2 linked regions of the Homo sapiens genome follow. Changing the gene in region 1 together with any one later gene gives a genetic interaction. Each region holds a gene or a part of one and is shown on either strand. Other genes may lie near its edges.

Region 1 (3,500 bases):
ACTTTATTTGGCAAGAAAATAAAACTGGAAATAGAATTATATAGCAGCTCATCAAATGCTAAAGGATGCATTTGGTTCTAAAGTTCAAAATGAGTACAGTACATCACACTCCAGTATGGAAAATGTTCATGTTATAGGTCATTTTAATGAACACATGCACACACACTTTAGTTTTCAAAGACCAAAGTTTAAAGAAAATACTTTTTAGTCAAGTACAGATCCCCAAAGGTTTATTTAAAGCCAATTTTTATTTAAGTAGTCTTCATTTTTGAAGCATTTTCCCCTAGTACTCTAATTTCAAAATCAGTATCTCTCAAATGCTGATGCCACTGGGAAAAATTTCCAAATTGGTAATGGAAACATATGCTATGTGCATCTGCTCAAACTAGCAACAACATGATGTCAAATAAAAATGGATGGCATTAAAAAAAAAATCCAAAAACCTATAATGGCAACTCAAAGCAGCAATAATAAGAAGAAGAGATTAAAATCTCTAGTTAAAAACAATCAAGACTTGCAGATTAAATCTGAACTTTACTCCTTCTGTTAGTACAAATCAGAAACTTCTTGCTACTCAAATTCAAACAGGGTGCAATGAATGTGTTACTTTCGTATTCCCAGTAACTACCTTTCCTCACCTGCTCCCTACATTCTGGCTTTCTTCTAAAAATTTCCCCCTCCTTTGGGTGAATTCCTCTCTTGATTAGCTCAGGAACGGAATGTGATCCAATCTGGGCAAAATAAAAGTACTTCTCCAAAATTTTACATAGCTTGCTTTATAAAAGCTTTCAGCCTTGTTATGCTAAGGTAAGCTGAAAATGTCAATTGCTGTTATCCACCATCCTCTCACCTCACTGTTCCTCATCCCATACAGAATATCCCCAAAGGGAAAATCTGAAAAGAAAACCAATCCATAAAGAAGAAAATAATCAGAGCCAAGTGTGTAGGATGGCAAGATGACTGCTTTTGACGTTTGGACCCAGGACCCAGTCATTGCCTGGACTTCCCTGTATATAAGCCAATGAACTGCCCTTCATGCTGACACTATTTTGAGTTTTTGTCACTTGCATATAAACAACACATTTTAATGCAACAGAGTACAGCTTAGTCCATTTTGTGTCGCTATAATAGAATATCTAAGACTGGGTAACTTATTTTTAAAAAGAGTTTTATTTGGCTCATGATTCTGGTGGCTGGAAGGCTCAAGATTGGGCAGCTGTATCTGGTGAGGGTCTCATGTTGCTTCCACTCTTGGTACAAAGTGAAAGGGGAGTAGGTATGTGCAAAGAGATCACATGGGAAGGCAGGAGGCAAAAAGGAGAAAATCAAGAAAGCCAGACTCTTTAGTAACCCTTGCTTGTGAGAACTAATCCATTCCCACGACAGCAAGAATGAGAACTCACTCACCCCAGTAGGAGGGCATTAGTTTATTCATGTGGGATCTATCTGCCCCCATGACCCAAACACCTTCCATTAGGCTCTGCCTCCCAACACTAGCACATGGGGAATCTAATTTCAACATGAGTTTTGGTAGGAACAAACTATATTCAAACCATAACAGTATATGATTAAATAAAAATAGACCAGCATCTTTATGTAAAATTTAGTAACATGAAATAAGGTACAACACAAAGTATATGTCAACATAATTAAACAAAAATGTATAAAGAAAATTGTTGGCATTATAGTTATGTGATTAACATTTTAATTATATGTCATGAAACCCAAATCCCACTACTTGCTACAGGGAAACAAACTGGATCAACTACATTTTGGAATCTTAAATATCTATTTTTAATAACTTTTTTTTTTTTTGAGGCAGAGTCTCATTCTGTCACCCAGGCAGTGCCCAGGAATGCAGTGGAACAATCTCAGCTCACTGCAAACTCTGCCACCAGGGTTCAAGTGATTCTCGTGCCCCAGCTTCCTGAGTAGCTGGAATTACAGGTGCCTGCCACCACGCCTGGCTAATTTTTGTATTTTTAGTAGACACAGGGTTTTGCCATGTTGGCCAGGCTAGTCTCAAACACCTGACCTTGTGATCTGCCCGCCTCAGCCTCCCAAAGTGCTGGGATTACAGCTGTGAGCCACTGTGCCTAGCCAATTCATATTTATAAAAGGAATAGGTACAAGTTTTATTTACTATAATTTATGACTATTAATCCTATATGTATAATTAGCAATTATGAAAGGCCTATCTTCTCTTTGAAATCACTGTTTAAAAAAATAAAGAAAACCAGGTGGAGCTTTTCTCCTTTTAAAATGTGATTCATGAACAAAATGCAGGATGCTGAACTTAACATGGGTCAAGGAGTTTGTTTACACACCAGAATTTGACAATAAGCTAACATGGAGAGGGCCTCCAAAAAGATATTGGGTCTCAATGCTACAAACATCTAGGGTTTTCAGTTAGTTATTCCAATTTCATTCTCTCCAAGCCATTGGTAATTCACTAAAACACACGTGTATTGTAAATCTTACGGGAAAAAATATGCATATTAATCAAATGAGTTGATAATTATATTTAGGGGAATTCTAAGAGTTATATTCTTTCCTAATAGCCTATAATTGAAAAGTCTAATAGAATTCTAGAAAATAAAGATGGCAAAGATGCATTAGATAATATAGATTTCTTTTTTTCCTCCTGAGCAGTGGAAACTACAGGATAGTTTGTTTTCTGTCCAGGTTTCAATTTAAATTCAGAAGGGGGGATGGAACTCAAGACTTTTCTTGGAAATGAGACTACATCATAACAGATTTCACTGTCAAAAAATTCCTATCCACCCTCATATTCAGATCATATTCAGATCGCAAGTTCTTTTTGTATACGTTATCCCACTTCTCCTAATAACAACACGTTTCACTCAATTCATCTATTTCTTGCTGGTTTCAAGAAGACACATTTCACTTTTGATTATAAATGAATTCCTTGAAATCTTATTTGTCTCTCCAATAATACTGTGAACAACGTAATTCTACACAAATTCTTTATCATATATTAGAAGATTCCTGATGTTGCTTTAGAGATTATAAATATATATGTATGTATGTTTCTCAAGTTGCAAGGACTCACTTTCTATGAACTTTCTATGAATCACATTCCATTAGTACTTTCATACCAAGGGTCCTTCTGGCATTATTGTTTTTCGATTCTCTTCTCCAGTTTCTACCCCAAGTTATACTTGTGTCCCACAAATTTATCTTCTGCTCATCTTCTCATTCTCTTTTCATATTTCAGATCTTTTTAAGTCTCCTTAACTAACGTCTCTGGTTTCTTTTTGGTAAAAAACTTATTCCAACTGTAACTAAAAATCAATTTCATTAATGTCCAGTTTTATCATTGCTTTTTAACCATTAAGTACACACATACAATATAGATGTAACAATCTTTTTACTCTCTTACAGTCATATTGCAGTTTCACAGTGGTATAAACTCCAATAAAATTAAGAATTTTTTTTCAGTACATGAGATCAAACTGTATACAGAGCTGCCATAACGT
Region 2 (3,500 bases), on another chromosome or scaffold:
ACAGCATTGAGAAAGCCAGATTTGTTAGAAGAAAAAACTAAAGAAAACATTTGGAGAAGAGTTGCAAATACCAAGGGATATGCAAATGACATGCTGTTGTGAAGATCAAACAATATAGATACAGAGTTAGGAGGCAGTCCAGAAAAAGATACATCTGTATTACTCACCACGGGGTCTCAGGCACAGACCCATGACAGGATCATCATCATAGCACTTAACATTATATTGCTCATTTATTATTTATTATGTTGTCCCTCTCCCTCATGTAAGGTCCATGAAGGCAGGGACATTTTCTGTTTTCCTCACTTCTGTATCCACAGCACAATGGCTGCTACATAACTGATGGGCTCAATACATATCCATTAAATGAATTAATATTTCTATGAACTCCAACAGTATCCAATGAAATTCACATTTGCTTGTGAATAGGGAAACATCTAGCTAGAACTAAGAACAGAATTAACCTCCAACCATTCACATTATATAAGCACAAATCACATGAGTGGAAGTGAGAAAGTGGACTGTTAGAGATAAGTGTTTAATAAAAAAATTAAAAGATGGGACATCTTTGAGAACAAATTTCAAATCAACAAATCAACTGTGTAAAGTAGGCAACCCTACTGTTATTTCTAGACATATTAACTGCAAGTACTTTTTTATAATTTTTCAAATGGAAGACGACCTATTCATTCTGATCCAAACTCACGTTCTTTCTCTACTAGTCTTATTACAGTTCTTGTTTCCAAGCATTAAAATCCCTGTGTATTTTTAATTTATTGTGAATAATTTGGTAGTTGTCTAACCCAAGATTATTTATGGCTGGCTTATTTTCCCTTTGTGTATGGAGTGCAAATGCTGTTATGTATTAAAGAGAAATTCTACAAGTATGGCAAAGTACGCTACCCTATGGAACCACAAAGTCAAATGATGCTAAAATAAGCTATCTATTAATCTCGTAGCCTACACTGGATGATGAATTGTCCTCTCCCCCTGAAATTCATATATCAAGTCCTGACCTCTAGTAGCTCCAAATGTGACTATATTTAGAGATGGGGCCTTTAAAGAACTCATTAAGATTAAAGGAGGCCATGGGGGTGGGGCCCTGGTCTCACATACTCAGTGTCCTTACAAAAAGAAGAGACACCAGGGATGTATGCAAGCAGTGGGAAAACCACAGGAGAACACAAGGAGAAGGCAGCTATCTGTGAGACAAGAAAGGCCCTGGAAGAAATCAAACCTACTATCCCTTTGATCTTGGATTTCGAGCCTCTAGACTGTGAGAAAATAAATTTCCGTTGTCATGACAACCCTAACAAACTAATACACTTAGTGTTTTCCATTTCCCCTTTATTAAATGTATACACTATTTAAATGTAAACACAAACTCCATTTAGCTATTTAAAAGAATTCCTGTTTGGAATAGTTGATTAAATTCTGTTTTCATAAAAGTACAGATAATTTTCTGATTAAATGATTTTCTTATGATTTTTTTTAAAATCATCTAAGTGGGACATGGGATTTTCTTTAAAATTAATCAGCAAGCAGTGAAATAATATTCTATCTCCTCACCCAAAAGTCTTTGATTTAAGAAAATCTATGTTCCCTCCATTGATAAAGTTCTAAGTTTAAAATAATGTTCTACTTACCAAATCAATCTGATCTAAAGAAATCTTCCCAACATTTCCCTGGGTACTGTAATCTTGGCCAGTGTAGGAATGACTTTAAAAAAAGAAAAAAAAATATTAAAACAGATTCATAAAATACTTTTGATCCCTTCGAAGGAAATTTTTTAAATTCTGAAAATGATTAAAATAAGAAAGCATTTTACATGTAAACCTTAGCAGAAACATAGCCAAGTGTTTTAAACGTATTTAATGAAATTAATTTAAGTAACTTACCCCAAAATAATAGAAAAATATAGTAACAGTCTGAACCTCCTGACTCCTAGTCTAGAGCACCACTTCCATTTTTTTAGAAGCATAATCCAAGTTGTTGTTAAAGTTCAAACCTCTACCATTTATCCTTTATTAACAGCACGACAACATAGCAAAAAAGCAGCTGGAACTTAAATTGGGAATCATCACTTAAAAGTAGTAGGTGAGCAAGTTACTTAGTTACTCTCTGTATGCCAGGTGCCTTATTGACTAATGGCGATAATAATGCCTGCTTTGCAGTGTTGATAGGAGGTCTGAATTGTAAGAATTTTTGTTAAAGAGCCTGACATAAAGCAATCACTGTTTATTAAAATAAATAATATCTGAATAGCATTTTACAGTGTACAAAGAGTCTTCAATAGCCTCTAATTAGATCCTTGCAACCCCCTGAAAGAGCGTTTCTGTATATCATCTGATGAATGGAGGCTTGGAGGAGTTAGAAACTTGTTAGGATCAGAAAGCAAGTCAGCAGTGCAGTGGGAACTCAAACCTTTTGATTCCTAATTCCCCATTTTTTCACCGCACCATATCATCCTCTTCCCTATAATAAATTTTCCTGCATGATTATCTTCAAATTAGGAAACATAACTTGGTATATACTACCTTAAGCCACCCACCTCAGTAATGTTTGACCTCCTTCACACAACACACTACTCATGCCCAACTCCATGAACACAGACTCAGGTGCATGCAGGTGTGACATAGCAAAAAACAGCTGCTAGATTACATAGAAATTCACAATCAAACCAAAGATTATACAAATACCACAACTAAAGGGAAACCCTGGAGTGAAGAGTCATTATGATCATAAAGAATTCCACCTGGGCAACAGAGTAAGACTCTGTCTCTACAAATAATAAAAATTAAAACAAAAACAAAAACCTGGGCATGGTGGCATGCCTGTAGTCCTAGCTACTCTGGAGGCTGAGGTAAGAGGATTGCTTGAGCCAGGGAGATCAAGGCTGTAGTGAGCCATGATCATGCCTGAGCATTCGAGCCTAGGCTATAGAGCGAGACTGTCTCAAAAAAACAAACAAACAAACAAAAAATCCAGATACTACTTTCTATCTGCTCAGTTACAGATTCTACCTGCTGAACCACATATACGCTCAAGATGCTCTGTAGACAGGCTGTTGTTTCCATAATCAATCAATTTTACTGATTAAACAATGGGTATGGATTATGAAGCAAAACCACAATATAGCTGGCTCACACCTGTCATCCCAGCACTTTGGGAGGCTGAGGCAGGCAGATGGCTTGAGCCCAGAAGTTCAAGACTAGCCTAAGCAACATGACAAAACCTTGTCTCTACAAAAAATACAAAAATTGGCCAGGCATGGTGGTGTGTGCCTGTAGTACCAGCTACTCAGGAGGCTGAAGCAGTAGGATGGCTTGAGCCCAGGAGGTGTAGGATGCAGTGAGCTGAGATCATGCTCCACCCTGGGTGACAGAGTAAGACCTTGTATCAAAAAAAAGAAAAAAAAAAAGGTACAGATTTCCCCTCCCTGCAAGTCCTCCTCCTACAGGCTAAGAAGGACCTGAGAATTACTCTGAGAGCAGGATGAG

Evidence for each region. A genetic interaction does not mean that the proteins touch.
Region 2: changes in ZNHIT6 (region 1) and PRIM2 together harm fitness less than expected from each alone (positive genetic interaction), as found in Homo sapiens cells (one large-scale study listed by BioGRID).

Annotation. Positions count from the first base shown.
Region 1 is NC_000001.11:85,649,434-85,652,933, forward strand, and holds part of ZNHIT6 (box C/D snoRNA protein 1), read right to left. Parts: 3' UTR 1-3,500. UniProt on the Homo sapiens protein: Required for box C/D snoRNAs accumulation involved in snoRNA processing, snoRNA transport to the nucleolus and ribosome biogenesis.
Region 2 is NC_000006.12:57,530,630-57,534,129, reverse strand, and holds part of PRIM2 (DNA primase large subunit), read right to left. Parts: intron 1,720-3,500; coding exon 1,647-1,719; intron 1-1,646. UniProt on the Homo sapiens protein: Regulatory subunit of the DNA primase complex and component of the DNA polymerase alpha complex (also known as the alpha DNA polymerase-primase complex) which play an essential role in the initiation of DNA synthesis.